3 linked regions of the Homo sapiens genome follow. The protein of the gene in region 3 interacts with the protein of the main gene of each other region in a pairwise test. Each region holds a gene or a part of one and is shown on either strand. Other genes may lie near its edges.

Region 1 (3,752 bases), on a different chromosome or scaffold from region 3:
TTCAAATCCCTGATTCCACAGCCTCCCGCTCCTGCCAGCTCTGAACCTGAGACTGGTACAACTGGTCTTACAGAAGGAAGTGAAATTCAGCCCTCTCCCTGTGACCTCACTCACTGCCTATACTGCTGAAGTTATTGATATGAGTTTCTTGGTGATAAAGAAGTTCCTCTTGCTCCACCTGATGGCTCTTGAAAGTCTGAGCTTGGAGCTACTCAGCATCTTAAGCTTCCAACCCAGCTCCCTACACATACCAGGAACTGCTTAGGGCCCCTGCAGCAGCCAGAAGCAGCAACCACCTGAACAGCTAAGGATAAAAAGAGATGAATTTCATTCTTGTCAGACTCAATTAGAGATTCCTGGGGGTTCTGTCCCCTAGTCTCTTGCCTTTGAAGAACAAGCCAAATGGTCTATGGATTGGTGAAGTAGCTAAAAGAATCTCAGTTCAATTCAGAATGCTGCCTTTGCCAAACACAAGCTGTGAGCTGCTTGCTTGGGCCCTGCCTTCGTCCCATCCCATCCCTGTCCCTGAGCTGTCTATGGTCCTGTCTGTGCCCTCTTCCCTGGAGAATGAGGAGATGCCTGCTAGGATGGCAAGCAGCCACGTGGTGTTCTTTGGACCGTGTTTCCCAAGTGTGTGTGTGTGTGTGTGTGTGTGTGTGTGTGTGTGTGTGTATGGGGAGGGGGGTGAGGTGGTGCACTCCAGCTTATTAACAACAGGAAACAAAATTTCCTGATGAAAGGACCAAGTGCTGTCCCGCCAGTCACCTGGCAGGGGCTCCCCTCCAGCTCTCCAACCTCCTCTTCTCAGGCTAGCAATCTTGACCTAAGAAGGGGCCCTCAAAGCCAATCACCAGCACGAGTCATTGTCTTGGTTTTTCCTTTGAAGCCTATCACCTTCCCCTCCCCCTCCCAGCAAAGCCCCAAAGTTCAACCTTTGCCTGGACTGGACAGTGGGGGAGGTGCAGCCAGAAGGTGTGGCTCTGCAAGCCCCAGGGACCCCTCTCACGCTCCACAAACTGTAGGTGGCTTGCCTGTAGGTGGGCGCCTCTGGAGGGGTGCTGGCCAAGGTCAAGGGTAAACTAAGAGAGGGTGAAATTTTTCTCCTGAGCTTAAGAGGTGATGTCCAGAGCGGTGGGAGGAGGAGGGCACTTCCTGAGAACAGGGCCAGGGAATGCTTTATTCCTAGCAAAGGAACTCAAGCCCCGCTGCAGCCATCCCAACCCCTAAGGGCTGGAAGAGGGATGCTGAACTTAGACTCCTCCTCCTCTTAGGAGAAGGCAGTAGTCAGACACCCAGATCCTCGACAGTGACTAGGAACACACACACACACACACACACACACACACACCCCAGACCTGGGTGACTCCAGGAGAGAGTCTCGGCCTCCGAGTCGTGATGCCAGGGCTCCGCGCCAGGGTCCAGCGTGACGAGCACTCGGGGGCTGGACGCCCAGACTCGATTGGGAAGGAGGGAAAAAGCCCAGCTGTTAAGGAGAGGAGCCTTCAGACTCCGCAGAGAGGCAGGATGCCCCACAGCTCCTGTCCTATCCCAAAGTCAGACCCAGAGGCTGGGCCGTTCTCGGGCGCCCAGGTCTGCTCAGCAGTGCACCCCAGGTTCCCCTGCCTACCTGGACCCAACTCCTTCGAGTCCCAAATGCTACCCCCAAGTTCCCTCTTGGAGCAGCGCACCCAACTGTGGGTTCTGCACCCCGTTCCCTCACCCCAGCGCCCCAGTTCTTCATGGTCACCCCAGACGTCCGCAGCCCAAACCCTTCCCGGGCCCCCGTGCGCAGCGCGACTCCGCTCCCCACTTCCCCAAGGAGCTGCGATCCAACTCCGCCCGGCCCCCGGCGGCCACCCGGGCGCTCACCGGGCTGCGGCAGGAGGCGGGAGGCGCAGGCAGGGGCGGCGGCGGCGGCGGGCACAGGCCGGGGCGGGAGGAGGCCACTCCGCACGGTGCGGTATTGTTTCCAAAATACGCCTGCTCGGGGCATCCCGCAAACAGCTGATGAGGCCCCGCCCCCCTGCGCGTCACGCCGAGGACTGACCAATGGCGAGTGAAGCGCCAAGTCCCGGGCTGGGCCGCTGCCAGGGACGGTCACGAATGTACGAACCTTCCCATGGAAACATTGCAAGGGGCCGAGCAAAATTCCGACCGTCGCCAGAAGCGCAGTCGGAGCGCCGTCGCCAGTGCGGATTCTGTCCCTAACACAGGCTCTGGAAGCGCCAGAGAGTCCCTGAATCCTCTGTATTAGGTGTGGGAGAGGGGGCGCCAAAGTAACTTTTGTCTTCTTTTTCACGGCAATGGGCAGAATAATTGCTGCGCGTCCACAAAGGGAGGGGGGAAGGAGGCGGGGAGTTTTTTTATGAGGCTGGTGCGTCCAGTGGGTGCAGGGTGCAGGGTGCGGGTCCCTATGGGATCCCAGCCTCAGGGGAAAGCTCCCTCCCGCCTGCCGAGCAGGTCGGAAGAAAACTGCAGCTCCAAAGCTGAAGGTGTGTTTGAAACAAACACATCCAGGGGAGCCCTTAGGTCCTCTTCTTGACTGGGCGTGGGCACTGGCAAAATAAGCACCTGGCTGAGAAGCGGAGCGCTCAAGAAGGCCGGGGCTGCTTGAGCGGTTGACACATATCTCGCATATGGCAGCATTTAGAGACTGTGCTGGTGCTGCCAGGAGAGCAGCATGTCCTGCAGACCGCGTAAGGGAGTCTATGGGCTACTTCACAGGCATTTACCGAGCACCTACTCTGTGCCAGATATTGGGCTGAGTGCCAGAAACCTGGCGTCTGCCCTCAAGGAGCTTACAGTCTACTAGGAGAGGTAGCCCTGAAAATAGTGAAAAGTTATTGGAATTGTATTCATTCCAAGGATAATGACTATTGAGGAATGCAGAAAAATTCAGAATACAAAGGCTGGAGAAGGCCTCAGGGAGACAGCTTTTAAATTGAATGGGAAATATTTTTCAATAAGGAAAACCAGATGCACATGTCTCACGCCTGTAATCCCAACACTTTGGGAGGCCGAGGCGGGTGGTTCACTTGAGCTCAGTGGTTGGAGACCAGCCTGGCCAACACGGGAAACCCTGTCTCTACTAAAAATACAAAAATCAGGCGGGCGTGGTGGCGCATGCCTGTAATCCCAGCTACTTGGGAGGCTGAGGTAGGAGAATTGCTTGAACCTAGGAGGTGAAGGTTGCAGTGGGCGGAGATAGCGCCACCGCACTCCAGCCTGGGCGACAATGAGACTCCGTCTCAAAAAAATAAAAATAAAATAAAATAAAAAAGAATAGCCCAGGCCTAAGGGTAGCAGACTGAAGTGCTGAGCTGGAGAGCTTACCTGTGCAGGGAGCAGAGGGAGGCTTGGTGACTGGATCATTGGGTGCACACTGAGATTTACGAACGGTAGGCATGGGCAGGTGGGTTCAGGTCAGACTACAGAGGTGTCCCTGGAATGCCAGACTGAAGAATCTGTATTTTATAAAGGGGAGGCAGCAAAGATTTTATTGGAGATGAGTGACTTGACCAAGCCTGAGTTTTAGGAAAGATAAAATGATGAGTCCAGAGAGCAGTGAGAGGGAGCCAGTCCTGCAACAACCCTGACCCACCAGGGGCAGTAGGGCTCAGCAGTGCTCTGACCACCGAGCTGCTCTCTGGGTTGTAAACTTAGATTTAAGTTCAGTGGAGCTGGGACCTTCAGCCCAATAGAGCCTGAAGTCTCCTTGTACCTTTTTCCCATCATTCTTTCCTTTGCTCCCT
Region 2 (3,752 bases), on a different chromosome or scaffold from region 3:
TGCCTGTGCATATTCAGGCTTTAATAACCAAATCATTCTTAGCATCTACTGGTCAGCTCAAGTCCCACAACACACTCCGTTCATTCTTTCCCTATAGTTTTCTGGCACAAAGATTGTTTTTCTTCCTCCTGTCCTTGGAAGATTCTAATAACATTTGGGTATCGAGTAAAATGCACAATTTAGAACTTAATCATGTGCTTGTTCTATATAATTTTCTAATTATTTCCTTTGGAAAATTCTGCCTTTTCAATAAGAAAAGTGGCTCCTTTGTTGGCAAAGAATGTATTTCTTCATATTTTCTGGAATTCCCATTATACCCAACAGAATCCTGGTCACGTAAATTATCACCAAAGGAAGAGTTAGCAGAAACTGCTGACGGGAGCAACAGGAAAGAAATTACCTCTTCCGTATGAATACAACGGATGGGCTTCACAGAAGTTGCCTTGATGTTTGAGATGCCTGGCTCAGTGGAATATTCAACTTCTAACAAGTCACCCTTATAAGGCACAAAATCTAAAACAGCCATGGAGAAATGTGAGTGTCATGATCTCTTAACTAGGTCACTTTTAATTTCACATGTTATTTGATAGTGTACTACTTTAAAGTCAGTTCTGCTAAATCTAAAGTCCATTTTGTGCATATTTAAACAGACACTACAAATCTCTAAGTCCAAAAAGAAGTTTATAATCCTTAGGCATTGATTCTCCTCTACTGATTTAACAAATTTAAATGGAGGAAAGTGTGAAGCATGCATCACAGCCAATATGAGGGAGCAGCACAGGATTTACTAAACAACTGTTAGTGTTCACAATTGCTTAGTGAGAGGCAGTCAAACATATAGGTAAGAGCACAAGTTTGAACCTGGCTATGTGGCTTCGAATCTTGACACTGCCACTCACTCAGTTGGCAACCTTAGCCAAGGTGGTTAATCTGTCTGTGCCTCGATTTCTTCATCTATAAAATGAGAAGCACAGTAAGTAGCCTTCATGGTACACAGCTGCCTTGAGAATTAGTTGATATGTGTGATACGCACAGAATCATCGCTGGCGCATAGCAACCACCAAATAACTGTTGATTGGTAGTAGTGGTAGCAGTACCGCTAGGAAATGTTGTTACTTTCAGAATGAATCAATTTCCCCTGGTGTTGTGTTCAACTAATGAACTCTTAAGTATGTGCCTTACAGGTTACAGTTAAGACCATCAAGTTTCAAACAGAAGTTTGCAATAAGTTAAAAGTGAGTCACAGGATAACAAAGTTACGTGAAAGAATCTGGAGCAAGTGGAAATCCCAACTGCAACTGAGACAGTAAATTGCCACAATGAAAACTAGTGATATCAACAAAGTTAAACATTTCTTCACCTTAGGACCCAACACTGTAGAATGACATAAGACACTGTGTTAGACCTGTTCTCTCTCTCTCTCTCTCTCTCTCTCTCTCTCTCTGATAATTTACATACATTTCTTTTGTGTGGATTTGACATATATCTATATGCTTATAACTCCAAAATGTATATGCCTCCAGTTCTAACCAACCTCAGGGTCAATTATCCATATGCTTACACCAATCTAACGTGTGTAAAGCTGAGTTGTTGGTATTCTCCATATTCACCAACTTTTGTTTGCCTCAGTCGTCTACATCACAAACTGGCAACTCCACTCTCACAACTGCTCAAATCAAAAACTTTGGAGGTACCTTAGACTCATTTTCCCTCCACAACAAAGATCTAATCCATTACCTCCTGGGTTCTTCTCTCACTTCAAAATATATCCAGAGTCAACTCAATCCTCAGGTTTTCCACTTCTCCATTTTCATTCACATCTCCATCATCTCTCACCAGGAATATTACAACGTTTTCCTGACTGATTTCCTGACTCCACCCTTCCCCTCATAGTCTCTTCTCAACAAAGCAGACAGAGTCAGCATCGTCAAACAAAATGCAGGTCAGAATCCTGCTTTTGCACCCAAGAAAACAAACTAGCAAGCTGCCTGGGGAAGCGGAGCTAATCTCTCCATTTATACCCAAGCTATACGACAGCTGCAGTAGACAAAACAGACAAAAAAATATCGTTGGGTAGAAGCTAAATATTAGAATATATCTGCCGATTACAAAGAGAATTCAACAACAACACACACACACACACACACACACACAAACAGACAACCACAAGGCGCTATCTCCAATCCTAAGTTTGAAGCATTTGAAGTGTATTCTTTTAAAATTTGGTAGTCTACCTTGTCACAGAAACTTCTCTAGTAACCAACTACAGAAATGATGCCTGCAAGTATAGTCTTTGAAGGGTATTAAAAATAGTGTCTCTATGCACTTGTAGGATTGTTTTCTTGATTAGAAATTAAATTCTCATATGAATGAATAGTATATCCAGGCATTACTGAGGGCATTGAACAAATGAACACACAATAACCAACAGCACACAATTTATAATACTGTCTATTTGCCCCTATACTGTACTTAATTTCGATTGGAACAGTCTACCTCTAACACTGAAGAGCCATTGACTGAAGCCAAGTACACTGTAAAAGTTGTTCCAGGACTAAAATCCTCTCAAAAAATTAAGAATTACATCATATATTTCAAAATATAAATCATACCTTCAGAAACAATGGCTATGGAAAAATAAATGCTGTTACTAATATAAATATTATCTTCATTTATAGAAGTAACACATCCAATTAAAACTCTGGTTCCTGAGTCTGAGGGTCCAGCACCATAAAGATGGCGAGGCACAACATCCACCTGTAAGATTTAGGAAAGAGTTTACTTCAAAAACAATACAAATTTAAACATGGAACTTACATGATTAAAAGACTTGTATTCAAAAATATTTTCAACAGCCATCCTAAACACTGGAGAATATAGTTCACTTGGTAAGTGGACCATTGACTTGAGATGACAGTAAAAGTCATGTGCGTGCTTCAAGAATTGTGAAATGTATCCCAAAACATTAATTGCATACCCAAGTTTAATGTCCTTGTACCATTAGATTCCAAGATTAAAATAATACCGTCCTTCGCCTGCAGAAATTCACAGTGAAATGACGGTAAAGTGGAAAGGTATATAGTCATAAGCAGGTTGCGATGAAGGATATAAAACTAGTTCAAAGATGGTTTCTGTGAATTATCTAGAGGGAGAACATTTCAGACAGGGAGAAAATAGAAGCATTGTTTAGGGGAAGTCAGATTTGTGCTGGGTTGGGAAAGAAGACGGGGTAAAGGAGCAGGGAGGCAGAGAGAAAAAACAACAGAAGTTAGGAGCCTAGGGAGCAAAACCCTAACATCCGAGATCCAGGCCTAGGAGACAGAAGCATGAGATAAAGTTGGAGCAATAACCTCAACTGGGGGAGGTTCGAAAAACCAAGTCAAATTAGGGCTTTACTTTATCTACAATAGAGAGGCATACAAACCTTTTCCCTTGTTGGAAGTGTAATAGTCCTTATTTTATAATCCTTAAAACTTACAAAAATAGTGTAAGCTTGTTATACTAAAAGTAGGAAAGAAAACAGATAAGCAGACAGCAAAAAGCAGTTACCCCACAATCCATAATTCATTACCAAGAGATCACCAGGGACTACATTTTTGGCAGTAACACTCATCCTGATGTTTTTGTCTGTGCACAAATATATATACATGTGTAAATGCCTGTTTTAAAAGCAAATTAGCATGGTATTCAGTGTTAAAGTATCACATTAAATGAACACAAAAGTTTTTAAATAACAAGAGAGGACGGAAAGA
Region 3 (3,752 bases):
GCCTCCCAGCCAGAGTAGACTCGGTGACTCCAGGGCAGCCACGTAGTGGAAGAAGATTTATGGAGAGAAAAAGGAAAATGACTTACAGAAAATGGAAGTGAGGTTCAGAAATAGCTGGATTGGTTACAGCTCGGCGTTTGCCTTATTTGAACACAGTTGGAACAGTTGGCCGCATTTGATTGGCCAAAACTCGGTGATTGGCACAAGAGTAGGCTACAGTCTGTTTACACCTCCACTTGTATAGTTCAGGATTTACAGAGAAACCTTTAGGCCAAATTTAAATACGTAAGGAGGTAGCTTTAGGCTAAACTTGATTTAACATAATAGATCAAAAGGTTAACACTTATTTAATCTCCATGGGGGATGCATAAGTATATTTCATATTAATTATTATGCTAGCCTTTGTTTCTGAAATGTTGAATAAAAGCCAAATAAATGCTATTAAGATAATACACACAAAAATGAATGGAGGGAGTTAGTTTAACTACCATACTTCTCTGGCAGTGTACATAATGTATGAAGTTCTGTATGTGTTTGTATGTAGTGAAGTTTGAAGGACTTTTGGGGAAAGAAAATGTAGTAGACAGGATCTTATCCACTGAGAAAAATGTCGCCTCCAAATGCAAGTATTGGCATATCATTTCTGGTTTTGTTTTGTTTTGTTTTGTTTTGTTTTGTTTTTAAGAGGGAGTCTGGCTCTGTCACTCAGGCTGGAGTGCAGTGGCGCGATCTTGGCTCACTGCAAGCTCCACCTACCGGGTTCGCGCCATTCTCCTGCCTCAGCCTCCTGAGTAGCTGGGACTACAGGCGCCTGCCACCACGCCCGGCTAATTTTTTGTATTTTTAGTAGAGATGGGATTTCACCGTGTTAGCCAGGATGGTATCGATCTCCTGACCTCGTGATCCGCCCCTCTCGGCCTCCCAAAGTGCTGGGATTACAGGCGTAAATCACCGTGCCCGGCCGGCATATCATTTCTAAAGCAGAGCAGTGACAAGGGGCCCTGCCTGTAGCTTCATACTGTCGGTGACCTGACACCCCCCTCACCTTATCCTGCAGAGGCTCCTGGTGTCCCGCAGGGTACTATCCGAGAGCGGGGTGACGGGGATCTCCTGAGCTTGCCCTGCCTTCCGTTTCAGCTCCGCTCCTCCAGCAGGGTGCAGCCTGGGAACATGAGAGAACCCACACTGCATCCAGCTGTTCCAGCCCCATTCTCTGGGGACACTGAAAAACAAATCAGATGCCACTAAGACTCCATTTATTATTATTTTTAAAATTGATAATTCATATATAATCAAATTGCTCTTTTAAAGTTTACAGTTCAGTTGATTTGTTATATTCAAAAGTACAATTATCACCATTAATTCCAGAACGTTTTCATTACCCCCCAAAGAAACTCTATACTCATCAGCAATTACTCCCCATTCTCCACTCCCCACTCTTCCACCAACCACTAATCTACTTTCTGTCTCTATGGATTTGCCCATTCTGGACATTTCATATAAATGGAATCATACTGTATGTATCTGGCTTCTTTCACTTAGAAGAATGTTTTCAAGATTCACTCATGTTGTAGGATCTGTCAGTATTTCTTTCATTTTAGAGTTCTTAATAATATTTGAGTGTATAGGTATATGACCTTTTGTTCATCCAGTCATTAGTTTATGGACAGTTGGGTACTTCTACCTTTTTTTTTTTTTTTTAATGGAGTCTTACTCCATTGCCCAGGCTGGAATGCAGTGGCACGATCTCAGCTCACTGCAACATCCACCTCCCGGGTTCAAGCAATTCTCTCGTCTCAGCCTCCCGAGTAGCTGGAACTACAGGTGTGTGCCACCACGCCTGGCTAATTTTTGTATTTTTAGTAGAGACAGGGTTTCACCATATTGCTCAGGCTGGTCTTGAACTCCTGACCTCATGATCTGCCCGCCTTGGCCTCCCAAAATGCTGGGATTACAGGCATCAGCCACTGCGCCCGGCCCTACCTTTTAGCTCTTATGAACAATGCTACTGTAAAGATGTATACAAGTTTCCTTATGGACATATGTTTCAATATTCTTATGTATATACCTGGGAGTGAAATTCTGTGGTCATATGGTTATGCTGAAACTGCAAAGCTATTTTCTAAAGTGGCTGCACCATTTTACAGTCCCATGAGCAATGTGTGAGGGTTCTAATATCCCCACGTTCTTATCAACACTTTTTCTTGTCCATCTCTTTGATTATAGCTACCCTAGTGGGCATGAAGTGGTCTCTGGTTGTGGTTTTGATATGCATTTTCCTGATGACTAACGATGTTGAGGAACTTTTCATGCATGTATTGGCTTTTTGTGTATCTCTGGAGAAAAGTCTGCTCAAATCCTCAGCTCATTTTTAAGATCGGGTTGTCTTTTCATTGTTGAGTCGTACGAGTACTTTATATATTCTAGATACATGTCTCATTTAAGATACATGTTAGCAAATATTTTCTCCCATTTTGTAGTTTGTATTTTTACTTTCTTGATAATGTCCTTTGAAGCACAACAGTTTTTTCAAATAGCAGAAGGGAGAATTTTGAGAGGTTCATATTCTACCATTTTCCCTCATATCACTAAATTTCCATTTTGTAGTTGGTTTTGTTTGGGATCAATTTCATGGCTTACAAAAATGTGTGCTGTCCCTTGAGGAGCTGGCTATCCTTAGGCATAATTTCTTTTTTAATTAAAATGTACTTTTACAAAAGGACATCCTTCAAACATGATTGAAATGTTCCAATGAGTGAAACTCTGAATATGGCAGAGATATTTTGCTAAACCACTCATCTGCTTTTCATCTATGCATGAGACCTGGATGGCTGAGGAGGCACTGACTAAACTCTCTTTTCTTAATAACAGGCGCTAACATTAGATTTGTTGATTTTGGCTGCAAGTTCAACTTTTGGCTAAAGCCCTTGGAAATCTTCCTTTAACAGAATGCAGAGTCTGGATGAGCCATGGACGGAAGAGGAGGGAGATGGCTCAGACCACCCATACTACAACAGCATCCCAAGCAAGATGCCTCCTCCAGGGGGCTTTCTTGATACTAGACTGAAACCCAGACCCCATGCTCCTGACACAGCCCAGGTAAGTCTTATAGTTTTTTTCTTATATAAGGAATGGAGGCTAACTCTACTTTATTTCCTTTTGTTTTCTTTGGTTTTATTTCAGGCTGATGTTCTGTTTCATTTTTGACACAGTAAATCATGAGCTTTCTCTCACTGGATTTCATGAGGCATGCAGATGAAGAGAGGCTTTGGGTTAACATCATAAAGCATTGGCCAAATGCTTTGGAACTGTGTGGTGATTCCTGGGATATGAGTCTGGGGGTGTCCTCTGTACCCTCAGACATATTCCATCATACTGTGATCTCAGTGAGGGAAAGAGAGAATTTAAGATTTTAAAAAGGCTTGGGAGGCATTGGGTTCTCTGAAAAGGAGTGAATATAGACGCTTAAAATGATGAGAATTTTATGAGTTTTCTATTTTATTCATTCCCTTGTTTTATGTCCAACTCAAAATTCTAGTAAGGCAATTGCTTTCTAGAGTTATGATATTTCTGTTTTGTTATAGGAAATTTTTTAACGTTACTACCTTATGTGAATGATAATGACACCACTAAAAATGGCAAAATAACGTTGAGCTCAGGGATCTGACACTGAGAGGGAATTTCCTGATTTTTTGAAGGAAATTTCCTGGTTTACAGAGTGGACTTGACCAAGTGTGAACGATCATGGGCGT

The links.
Region 1: the proteins of SHC3 (region 3) and BMF interact in binary tests that used the Homo sapiens proteins (3 or more experiments, as listed by UniProt).
Region 2: the proteins of SHC3 (region 3) and CT55 interact in binary tests that used the Homo sapiens proteins (3 or more experiments, as listed by UniProt).

Annotation. Positions count from the first base shown.
Region 1 is NC_000015.10:40,106,904-40,110,655, forward strand, and holds the start of BMF (bcl-2-modifying factor), read right to left. Parts: upstream 1,977-3,752; 5' UTR 1,870-1,976; exon of another isoform or gene 1,721-1,869; intron 1,484-1,720; 5' UTR 1,356-1,483; intron 64-1,355; exon of another isoform or gene 1-63. UniProt on the Homo sapiens protein: May play a role in apoptosis. Isoform 1 seems to be the main initiator.
Region 2 is NC_000023.11:135,157,799-135,161,550, forward strand, and holds part of CT55 (cancer/testis antigen 55), read right to left. Parts: intron 2,758-3,752; coding exon 2,613-2,757; intron 514-2,612; coding exon 401-513; intron 1-400. UniProt on the Homo sapiens protein: Plays a role in spermatogenesis, possibly acting in the regulation of the autophagy pathway.
Region 3 is NC_000009.12:89,046,191-89,049,942, reverse strand, and holds part of SHC3 (SHC-transforming protein 3), read left to right. Parts: intron 1-2,948; coding exon 2,949-3,099; intron 3,100-3,752. UniProt on the Homo sapiens protein: Signaling adapter that couples activated growth factor receptors to signaling pathway in neurons. Involved in the signal transduction pathways of neurotrophin-activated Trk receptors in cortical neurons.